Homo sapiens: one gene and its partners. The protein of the gene in region 3 purifies or fractionates together with the protein of the main gene of each other region. This does not show direct contact. Each region holds a gene or a part of one and is shown on either strand. Other genes may lie near its edges.

Region 1 (3,652 bases), on a different chromosome or scaffold from region 3:
CCTTTCTTATCTGTACTTCTCAGTAGCCATGTTTTTTTGGAGTGGCATATATGTGTGTGTACAAAGCATCAGATTTCCTCTAGATCCCATCACTCTTTATACAAACTAGAATAAGTGCTAATATGTATAAATTATGGTCATATTATATATATATATATATATATATATACACACACACATATATATATAAAGTGGTCTCTAATATATATAATAGTAAAGCTCAAAGTTTTACTTTGAGCCATGGCAGAAGTCAAAAAAGTAGTGAGTGTTATCAGTGCTCCTTAACAATCCCTAGTCTGTTTTGGAAATACTCAAGTGAGGCTAAGTGCAATGACTCATGCCTATAATCCCAACATTTTGGGAGGCTGAGGTGGGAGGATTATTTAAGCCCAGGAGTTTGAGACCAGCTTGAGCAACATAGCAAGATCTCATTTCTATTTTTATTTTATTTTATTTTATTTATTTTTTGAGATGGAGTTTCACTCTTGTTGCCCAGGCTGGAGTGCAATGGCACGATCTCAGCTCACTGCAACCTCCGCCTCCTGGGCTCAAGTGATTCTCCCACCTCAGCTTCCCGAGTAGCTGGAATTATAGGCATGTGCCCCCATGCCCGGCTAATTTTGTATTTTTAGTAGAGATGAGGTTTCTCCACGTTGGTCAGGCTGGTCTCAAACTCCCAGCCTCAGGTTATCCACTCACCTCGGCCTCCCAAAGTGCTAGGATTACAGGCGTAAGCCACCGTGCTCAGCCTCTATTTTTAAATATGTATATATTCATCACGCCTGTAATCCCAGCACTTTGGGAGGCTGAAGTAGGAGGATCACCTGAGCTCAGGAGATTGAGACCAATTTTCTGGGCAACATGGCAAAACCCTGTCTCTACCAAAAAAAAAAAAAAAAAAAAAAAAAAAAAAAAAAAAAAAACTAGCCAGGTGTGGTGGCATATGCCTGTAATCTCAGCTACTTGGGAGGCTGAGGCACAAGAATTGCTTGAACCCAGGAGGCAGAGGTTGAAGTGAGCCAAGATCACACCACTGTAGTCCAGCTCCCAGGTGACAGAGTAAGACTCTGTCCCAATAATAATAAATATATATATATATGTGTATACATATATATACATATATATATATTCATGTGATCAATTCAAAAATTCCATGGCTATCTCTGAATAAACCCAGGTAAGTGTGGGTGGGGTAGTTTCTTTTTCTGAATAATCCATTTAACCATAATCGCAGAAACCATAAAGATGAGGAGCAGGACAGTCCTGGTTTCAAATCCAGTATCTATCAATTAACTGTGTAAATGCAGGCAAGTGACCTAACCTTTTAGCATGCTGATTCTCCATTAGAAACATATTAGTACCTATCTCATAGGGTAGTTACGAGAATTTAATGCACGTAAAGCACTTGGCAGCTTCAGTCCACAGTTAGTGGGGGGACCAACTCATGTTTTTCTTGGACTGTTCCAGTTTTAGCCCTAGAAGTCCCATATATCTTAGGAACACCCTTTAGTCTTGAGCTAATCTGAGGTGATTGCTCACTCTACACACACAGTCCCTGTTTGTGTATTAGTAAGAAAGGCTGCTATGTCATATTACGCTCTGGGGCATAAGGACTTGGTTTCTGCCCTAAAAGAAAATAAAATAGACACAATTATAAAAGTGTGTGAGTGGCCAGGCACAGTGGCTCACGCCTGTAATCCCAAAACATTGGGAGGTCGAGGTGGACGGATCACAAGGTCAGGAGATCAAGAACATCTTGCCCAACATGGTGAAACCCTGTCTCTACTAAAAATATAAAAATTAGCCAGGCGTGGTGGTACATGCCTGTAGTCCCAGCTACTCTGGAAGCTGAGTCAGGAGAAACACTTGAACCCGGGAGGCAGAGGTTACAGTGAGCTGAGATCGTGCCACTGCACTCCAGCGTCCATCTCCAAAAAAACAAAAGTGTGCGAGGTTTTGGGGGTACTGGAAGTATTTAGATCTTGATTGTGATGATGGCTTCCTACTGTAATTCTCCATCAAAATTCATCAACTTCAACACACTTCTTTTTTTTTTTTTTTTTGGAGACTGTCTTATTCTGTTGCCCAGGGTGGAGTGCAATGATGCAATCACCGCTCACTGCAGCCTCCTGAGCTCAAGTGATCCTCCCACCTCAGCCTCCTGAGTAGATGGGACTACAGGTGTGTGCCACCATGCCCAGCTCATTATTATTATTATTACGTTGTAGAGGCAGGATCCTGCTTTGCTGCCCAGGCTGATCTTGGTCTCAAACTCCTGGGCTCAACTGATCCTCTCACCTCAGCTTCCGAAAGTGTTGAAAATACAGGCATGAGCCACTGCACCTGGCCATTGTATTTATTTATTTATTTATTTGCTTATTTATTTATATTTTATTACTTTTTTTTTTAAGACAGTCTCACTCTGTCACCCAGGCTGGAGTGCAGTGGCATGATCTGAGCTCACTGTAACCTCCACCTACCAGGTTTGAGTGATTCCTCTGCCTCAGCCTCCTGAGTAGCTGGGATTACAGGCATGCGCCACCACACCCGGCTAATTTTGTATTTTTAGTAGAGATGGGGTCTCACCATGTTGGCCAAGCTGGTCTCGAACTCCTGACCTCAAATGATCCACCCCCCTCAGCCTCCCAAAGTGCTGGGATTACAGGCGTGAGCCACTGCGCCGGGCCTGTTTTTTTGTTTTTGTTTGTTTGCTAGTTTAAAAAAAAAAAAGGGATAAGTAACTTAGAAAAAGCTATGTGCTAAGTACCATGATGGAGGAAAACATTCTCTAACCCCAGTCACGACCCAGTGTTAAAGGGACTTGCAGTCTACTGCCAGAGAGGTATGCCTGAGAAACCAATAACAGAAAAGTGCACAGAAGGAAGTGTTTTTTGTTGTTGTGTTTCGTAACAAACCTAGACATATTCATGAATTAAAGAAATTAGTTTACTGGAATCAGCCTGCCTGGATTTGATTTCCGGTTCTGCCAGGTACTGATGTTGAAACCTCGGGAAGGCAGCTTACTCTAAGCTTGACTTCCCTTCACTGTAAAATGGGGATGGTACTATTCCTTATCTCATAAGACAGTAATGATGATAAAATGTATGTAAAACATTTAACGCAGTGGCTGCCTGACACACAATAAATATTAAATAAAAATTAGCCATTATTGTTAGGATTTGGATGGACAAAAGGGTATTTAGTCTAATCATCTTTGGGTATAAACATGAATTTGCATTTCTATCTAGGTTTTTACTGGTTCTCACTGAAGAATTTGTTATCAGAGGGAGAGAGAAACAAAAACACTTACATTTGAAAATTAAAGCGCCGAAGATAAGAGCCAGAGCCAGCCCAGCACAGATCCCTGCTCCGATGTAGATGCCTATTCTGATGGTTGCTCCAGAGTCCCGTAAGTCATTGGCCAATCTAGAGTCCCGTAACTCATTGGCCAATGTGGATATTTGCTATGGAAACACAAACAGGATTTAAGCAGAAAACAGCTAGAAATCGCTTGTGTAATCAGCTTCAAGATTTGTGAATTGGACCATCCCTTTTACAACATCACAGGATGGCTGAGTCCTTCAAATCACCTTTGATCTGTCACCTTGTAGCCAACACTCAAGCCAACCCAAGAAAGGGTCTCCCTTAACCT
Region 2 (3,652 bases), on a different chromosome or scaffold from region 3:
CTTGTGGATTATTGCACCTTTATTTGCTCCTCCATCTAAATATTCAGTGCTTTTTTCCCCTTATTTTTGGGGCTGCCAATTCCCATAGCCTACTAGGATCCTGGAGATGGAAAATACCTTGAGTATTTGTGGTAGAGCTTTAGATCACCTTTATTTGACCTGCTTATTTCACTAGAGCTGAATAGCATTTTTAACTATACCCTCCCCCAACCCCGAAAAGGCAGCCTTAGCTCAGCCTATGAAAACCGTGTGTGTAATCACATTTCTAACATTTGACTTACACCTCAGTTCTGATTCTTCTCCATCTCCTTTGCTGGCACTAGTCTTCTAAATATTGGCATTGCCTAGGTCCCAGTCTTGATCATGCTTTTCCTTTTCCCCTATTTTATCTTCCTAAGTGATCTCACCCATTCCTGTGGCTTTAAATACCAAATGTGTGCTGCTGGCTTCCAAATACATATGTCCAGGCTTGACCTATCTTTAAGCTCCAAATCTGTATACCCAATCCCCTACTTAACATTTTTACCTGAATGTCTTACAGATAAAATAAATAAACCATTTTACTAAGTCCAAAATGAAACTTTTGATTTTTGCCCCTCCTCTTATCACCACTCACAACCAGTTCTATTCCTAATCTTCCCTATGTTGGTATGTTGCGCTACACAGTATATAGTACAATGCCCTCTACATCTCTCAATGGGTGTTGGCCCCATATAGTACTGTATTGAGTATATCAAATATTGTAAAATCACCCACCCACCTGCTCAAGCCACAGAGCCATCCTGGGTTCTGACCCATTTTTTATCCCCCATCTCCAATTCTTGAACAAGTGTAATGTTTTTTTTGTTTGTTGTTTGTTTTTTGTTTTTTGTTTTTTTGTGAGATGGAGTCTTGCTCTGTTGCCCGGGGTGGAGTGCAGTGGCATGATCTCAGCTCACTGCAACCTCTGCCTCCTGGGTTCAAGTGATTCTCCTGCCTCAGCCTCCTGAGTAGCTGGGACTACAAGGCATGAACCATCATGCCCAGCTATTTTTGTACTTTTAATAGTGATGGGGTTTTGCCATGTTGGCCAGGCTGGTCTTGAACACCTGACCTCAGGAGATCCACCCACCTCAGCCTCCCAAAGTGCTGGGATTACAGGCGTGAGCCACCACATCCAGCCCTGAACAAGTGTAGTGGTTTTTAGCTCCAAAATAAGTCTTGAATCTGCCTACTTATCTCCAGTTCCACTCTTAACACCCAAGTCTAAGCTACCATTATCTCTTGTCCAAACCAAGGCAACAAACTCCTCCCTGCTACCAGTCTTGCCAGTCTTGCATTTTGAAGAACTAATCTCTACATAGCAGTGAAGGTGGACTTTATAAATAAGAAACCTATAGCGTCAATGCCCTCTACACCTCTCAGTGGGTGTTGGCTCCATTATACTTGGAACACAATGAAAAGTCATCACTGTGACCGACAAGGCCCTACTTGAAGTGCCCCCTCTGTACTTATCCAAATTCATTTTAAGCCCTTTCCGTCCTACCGCTCCAGGCTCACAATGTGCCCCACATGTTATATGTTGGCCATCTGACAGTTCCTAAAACATAATGAGAACTTTCCTGTCCTAAGGCCTTGGAAATTACTTTCTCCTGGGCCTGAAATACTCTTCCCTCTGTTGCTTTTTTGTTTTGTTTTATTTCTATTTTGACAAGTTGCAAACATATAACAAACATCTGTGTTCCTACCACCAAAAATTAATAGTTACTAACTTTTTGACATTTTTCCTTGGATTTGAACATTAACGAAAGAACAATATAAAGGTAAATTCTCCTTGTTCTGCCTGTGTTCCATCCCCCTTTCTCCTTACTCAGAATGAGTAAGGGATATTGCTGGTTCCTTACACTACATACATTTCTTCCTTCCTTCTGTTTAGCAAAACCTTGACTTTGTTAAGGCATTCACACACTGCCCACTCCCACCTCCACCCTCTGCCCCAACACCCTCATGTGTTCAGCAGAGGCCATTTGCAGCACGACTGTGGCCCAGGAGATAAGAGGGCAAGTTTCCTGGAGGCTGTGTTTCATTTTGACCCAGGCTATCCAGCAAGGAGGCTGTAGCACTTCTAGAGGCTCCTATCCTCTCTCTCCTGCCCTCAAAGATTTGCCTTTAGAGAACTGGAATGGGACCAAAGAGTCAGGCTCTTTGAATTTCTGATCCACTGCCAAGTCATGAACCAAATGATGTTCTTGTTTGTTCAGTCTTCATCATGTGTCATCTGCTTATCTCAACATCACTGTCTGATCTAAACCAAAAACATCAACATCATAAATAGAAGGAAACTGGACTTCCTACATGTCTCCATGCCTATCCTCCCAAAAAAGAAAGAAAAATGATTTCTCCTTCTATATCAAATCATTTTTTGGTTAGTGTATTATTTTATCATAATTGTGTGTTCGTTTAAACCCAGTGCTATGAAAGACTTCTACAAGGTTAAATCTCCGCTCAAATACAAAATGTTTAAAATCTCAACTGAGAACTGACCTCCCTGTCTCTTCTCTCTGCTTGCAGGCTGCGGCATGTTTACCTTCCTGTCATCTGTCACTGCTGCTGTCAGTGGCCTCCTGGTGGGTTATGAACTTGGGATCATCTCTGGGGCTCTTCTTCAGATCAAAACCTTATTAGCCCTGAGCTGCCATGAGCAGGAAATGGTTGTGAGCTCCCTCGTCATTGGAGCCCTCCTTGCCTCACTCACCGGAGGGGTCCTGATAGACAGATATGGAAGAAGGACAGCAATCATCTTGTCATCCTGCCTGCTTGGACTCGGAAGCTTAGTCTTGATCCTCAGTTTATCCTACACGGTTCTTATAGTGGGACGCATTGCCATAGGGGTCTCCATCTCCCTCTCTTCCATTGCCACTTGTGTTTACATCGCAGAGATTGCTCCTCAACACAGAAGAGGCCTTCTTGTGTCACTGAATGAGCTGATGATTGTCATCGGCATTCTTTCTGCCTATATTTCAAATTACGCATTTGCCAATGTTTTCCATGGCTGGAAGTACATGTTTGGTCTTGTGATTCCCTTGGGAGTTTTGCAAGCAATTGCAATGTATTTTCTTCCTCCAAGCCCTCGGTTTCTGGTGATGAAAGGACAAGAGGGAGCTGCTAGCAAGGTTCTTGGAAGGTTAAGAGCACTCTCAGATACAACTGAGGAACTCACTGTGATCAAATCCTCCCTGAAAGATGAATATCAGTACAGTTTTTGGGATCTGTTTCGTTCAAAAGACAACATGCGGACCCGAATAATGATAGGACTAACACTAGTATTTTTTGTACAAATCACTGGCCAACCAAACATATTGTTCTATGCATCAACTGTTTTGAAGTCAGTTGGATTTCAAAGCAATGAGGCAGCTAGCCTCGCCTCCACTGGGGTTGGAGTCGTCAAGGTCATTAGCACCATCCCTGCCACTCTTCTTGTAGACCATGTCGGCAGCAAAACATTCCTCTGCATTGGCTCCTCTGTGATGGCAGCTTCGTTGGTGACCATGGGCATCGTAAATCTCAACATCCACATGAACTTCACCCATATCTGCAGAAGCCACAATTCTATCAACCAGTCCTTGGATGAGTCTGTGATTTATGGACCAGGAAACCTGTCAACCAACAACAA
Region 3 (3,752 bases):
TGTGGTAAGCCCTGGGTTATATATAATGGCAACAAGAGAAAACTATCACATAATCTGAATTACGTTCATTTTTCTGCATACACCATGCATGCTGGTACACTTTCAGTTAGCCTAAACTTCACCCAAAAGTAGAGGTGGCTATGAAAACTCTACCTGCATGGTATAAATAGATACCTAACCCTACATGCATGGGTCACTTGTATCTACCTCCTAAATACCAAAAACTTAGAAGCCCAGATTTCTTTTCAGTCAGGCTGCCTGCGATAACAATAAAAATACTGCCAAAATAGGAACAACAGAGACAGGAAGGAAATATGCCAAAATGCTTATAATTGTGGGGAAGGGTAATTTTTTGTTTTGTTTTGTTTTTTACAGAGTCCTGCTCTGTTGCCCAGTCTGGAGTGCAGTGGCGGGATCTCAGCTCATCACAACTTCTGCCTCCTGAGTTCAAGCGATTCTCCTGGCTCAGCCTCTCGAGTAGCTGGGACTAGAGATGCATGCCACCACGCCTGGCTAATTATTTGTATTTTTAGTAGAGATAGGGTTTCTCCATGTTGGTCAGGCTGGTCTCGAACTCCTGACCTCAAATGATCTGCCCGCCTCGGTCTCCCAAAGTGCTGGGATTACAGTGAGCCACCACGCCTGTCTGGGTAATTTTTTTTTAAGTATTCTGTTTACAGTAAATTCAGAAAACAGAAGTCTTTAATATGTCTGTTTTAAAGGGGAGAGGTATAAGGTGTGCGGCTAACAAGTTTATTTTTCTAGTCGCAGAATTTGGACTCGTGAAAGATTTTAGTCTAATGCAGTTTGTTCACAAATATAAGGAGGGGGGCCTCAGACTAGGGAGGTGTTTTCCGAGTTGAGTCAGAACAAGAAAGTAAGTCTCCCAAGACCTGGTCCTTTTCCACTATATCACACTGCACTGTCTGGCTCCAATCTGATGGCGAGCAATGGTTCCTTAAAAAGCTCCATCTTCTCAAGCCTACCCAGCACAGACCTACAACTCAAACTTTAAGTTTTAGCCAGCCTAACCTTCCACGTCCACTTGAAAAAAGAAAAAAAAGAAAGAAACAATCAACCGGAAGCCTTTGATTTTTTTGCTAGCAAGAAGCCAATAATTGTTTTCTTTGGGACAATCACAGGTTAAGTTGTGAAATGGGTGGCAGAAACTGCAAGATTTAACCAGTTTCTCTCAACGCTAATCAAAGGTCAAGAAAATAAAAGACAGGGCAGTGAGAGTCGCGGGACTTTAGACACTCCTGCACCAAGAAGCTTAAAAGTCTTAGCCAGGGCACTAGAGAACGCTTTTAGAATGGTCACTCTTAATTATGCTCCATAACCTTGAAATTGGACTGAGTGGGGAAGGGGTTTCCACACTCTCACAACGCACCGACTGGGGGAACGCCTGTCCCCAGACTCGAATCCACGTGTCCATTCAAGTCATCTACCGCCACTCTCCGTCTACGCTGCCAGGTGACAGACATCATCTTTGCTTCTCAATTTCAAAAAATGCCAGCACTCCTTAGATCAATGACTCCACGGCCAAGTGCAAGGGCCACGGGCACTCCTCTGGAGTCACCGAGAGAATGTCTGCCTCTGGCAGCGGCCTCTGAGCTGCCTGTGGGCCTCGTGCCGCCGCGCTGCGTGGGGCCGGCATCTCAGCGGGCGCGAGTGCAGTCTCGCCCCACGCGCGGTCCGAACGCCCGCGAGCCCGGCCTCTGGGCAGGCGGGGGCCGCGGACGAGGGCAACGTCAGCGGCCCAGCTGGGCCACCTCCTCCCAGCCGAAGCGCGGCCTCCGGCTGCTTCGCCGGGCCGGTCCCCGCCGCCGCACACACAAGGGTCGGTCCCGCGCGCATCCCCGGCCGCGCACCAGCCCCGCGCCCGCGCCGCCCGCGACTCAGACACAGGAAGCTGCGGCAGCACGGGCACCCCGGAGGCCTCCGGCTGCCGAGGGAAGCGGGGCCGCGGGCAGGAGGCCGGAAAGGCGGCGCGGCCCCACGAGCCTGGGGTGGCTCACGCGCCTCCGCGGCGGCCGCTGCTCCGGGCTCGGCCCTGAAGGGCAACGTCAGCCGGCGCCTCGGCCGGGGCCCGGGCACCGCCGCGGGAGCAGGCGCGGCTCCGCACGGCGGGCGCACTCACCTCCTCCGTGGACCGGCCGCTCCGCCGCCGGCTGTCACTGCAGCCCACTCCCTGCCCCGCGCCGGCTCTGGATGCTATTTAAGGCGCCGCTGGCGCCGCCGCCTCGGCCCGCTGGTTGCGCCCCCGCCACCGCCGCGGCTGAGCCAGGATGCTGCTGGTGCGCTCGCCGCGCCGGCCCCGCCCTCCCGCGGCCCCGCCCCGCCCGCAGGCCCCGCCCCCGGCAGGCCCCGCCCCGCCGAGCGCCCGGCCGCCCTCCTGTCTGGGCGCGCGTGGCTGGCGGGTGGCCGGCGGTCGAGAGGCTGCGGCGGGCGAACGCCGCTGGAGTCGCCCAGACTGCCTCGGATTTCATAATGAATCTGAGGAAGGACAAAGGGTACATTGGACCGCCTCAGCTCAGAGGCCCCGCGGACCCTGGGCCCCGCGATGCCCGAGGGGCGGGCGGCGCCCTCCGGATCCTGCACCCTCAGCCCGTGCCCCGCTGGCCTCCTGGCAGGCCGGGCAGAATTCTGCTGCGAGGGCCCTGGAGGCAAGGGCCTTCCTCTCCGTTTTTCCTTGACACTGACGGGCGCGGCCCCACAGGGTTTCCCCCACGCTCCCTGGCCGGAAGACCTTTTCTGTCTGGTGTCTGCAGAGCCTGACGTGGGCAGCGCCCGCAGCTCGCGCCGGTGCAGGGGAGCTGAGGGCCGACTGCGCGCTGCACCACGGCGGCCACCTGCTGTGCGGTTCTGAGGGCTTCCGCGGTTCTGAGGGCTTCCGCGTCCCTGCCATGCCCATCTTGGGGCTTCAGAAGCCAACACGATGGTTTTCGGGCTCACATCCCAAAGGCTGCTCTTCCTTTTAGCACCTGGGACCTACCAGGAACCTCAACCTCTAACAACATTGGTCCCCGTTACCGTGGAGTTTGCGCCCAGCGTTCGCTGGAGGGCCGTTTGAAGAATGATTGTTGTCGTAAAGGCCTTTGATAATAATAGATACTGTTTACCCAGTGCTTGATGCCAGGCATTGCTACAAACACTGCGTACACATTATTCTATTTAATCTTCATAACCCAGTGAGGTAGGTACTGTCATTACTGTCCTTTCACAGAAGAGGAAGCTGGGGCACAGAGGTTAAATGCTAGTGAGAGCAGTACCACACTTGGCACTCAGGCTGCCCCCAGAGTGTGGGCACAACCAACGCAGGGCTATGCCTGGGCTGCAGGCAGGGGAAACTGACCGTGGTTCGCTCCAGGCCTCAGCCACACTGCAGTTCACTCCCACAAATAACTGAAGGACTTTCCCTGGGTGTCTCCCACAGTGTGCTGGGCGCAGTGGTGCAGTGGGGTGAGGACAACGCACACACCAGCAACCTCTCTAGCAGCTCAGTCCTTTTAGATCTCCATCTTCCAGATCTAGAAAAAATGGACTCCACGTTCGTTTTCACTGGTTCCCGCTTGGCTAATCCCTGGTTTTTCTGTCCAGATCTCGCCTCCCCATCCGTGATTTTGTCATCTTTGCCTCTCCTTTTTCCTCTTCTCCAACCGGTCCCTCAGCCCCAGAACCTCTGCAGGCACCTCCCAAGTTCTGTGGTCTATTGTTTTCAAGGGCTGCTGGAACGAAGTACCACACACTAA

The links.
Region 1: the proteins of ACSL1 (region 3) and HAVCR2 purify together in Homo sapiens (co-immunoprecipitation; one large-scale study listed by IntAct). This does not show direct contact.
Region 2: the proteins of ACSL1 (region 3) and SLC2A12 purify together in Homo sapiens (co-immunoprecipitation; one large-scale study listed by IntAct). This does not show direct contact.

Annotation. Positions count from the first base shown.
Region 1 is NC_000005.10:157,091,996-157,095,647, forward strand, and holds part of HAVCR2 (hepatitis A virus cellular receptor 2 precursor), read right to left. Parts: intron 3,465-3,652; coding exon 3,311-3,464; intron 1-3,310. UniProt on the Homo sapiens protein: Cell surface receptor implicated in modulating innate and adaptive immune responses. Generally accepted to have an inhibiting function.
Region 2 is NC_000006.12:134,028,620-134,032,271, reverse strand, and holds part of SLC2A12 (solute carrier family 2, facilitated glucose transporter member 12), read left to right. Parts: intron 1-2,550; coding exon 2,551-3,652. UniProt on the Homo sapiens protein: Insulin-independent facilitative glucose transporter.
Region 3 is NC_000004.12:184,823,776-184,827,527, forward strand, and holds the start of ACSL1 (long-chain-fatty-acid--CoA ligase 1), read right to left. Parts: upstream 2,194-3,752; 5' UTR 2,141-2,193; intron 1,462-2,140; exon of another isoform or gene 1,391-1,461; intron 1-1,390. UniProt on the Homo sapiens protein: Catalyzes the conversion of long-chain fatty acids to their active form acyl-CoAs for both synthesis of cellular lipids, and degradation via beta-oxidation. Preferentially uses palmitoleate, oleate and linoleate.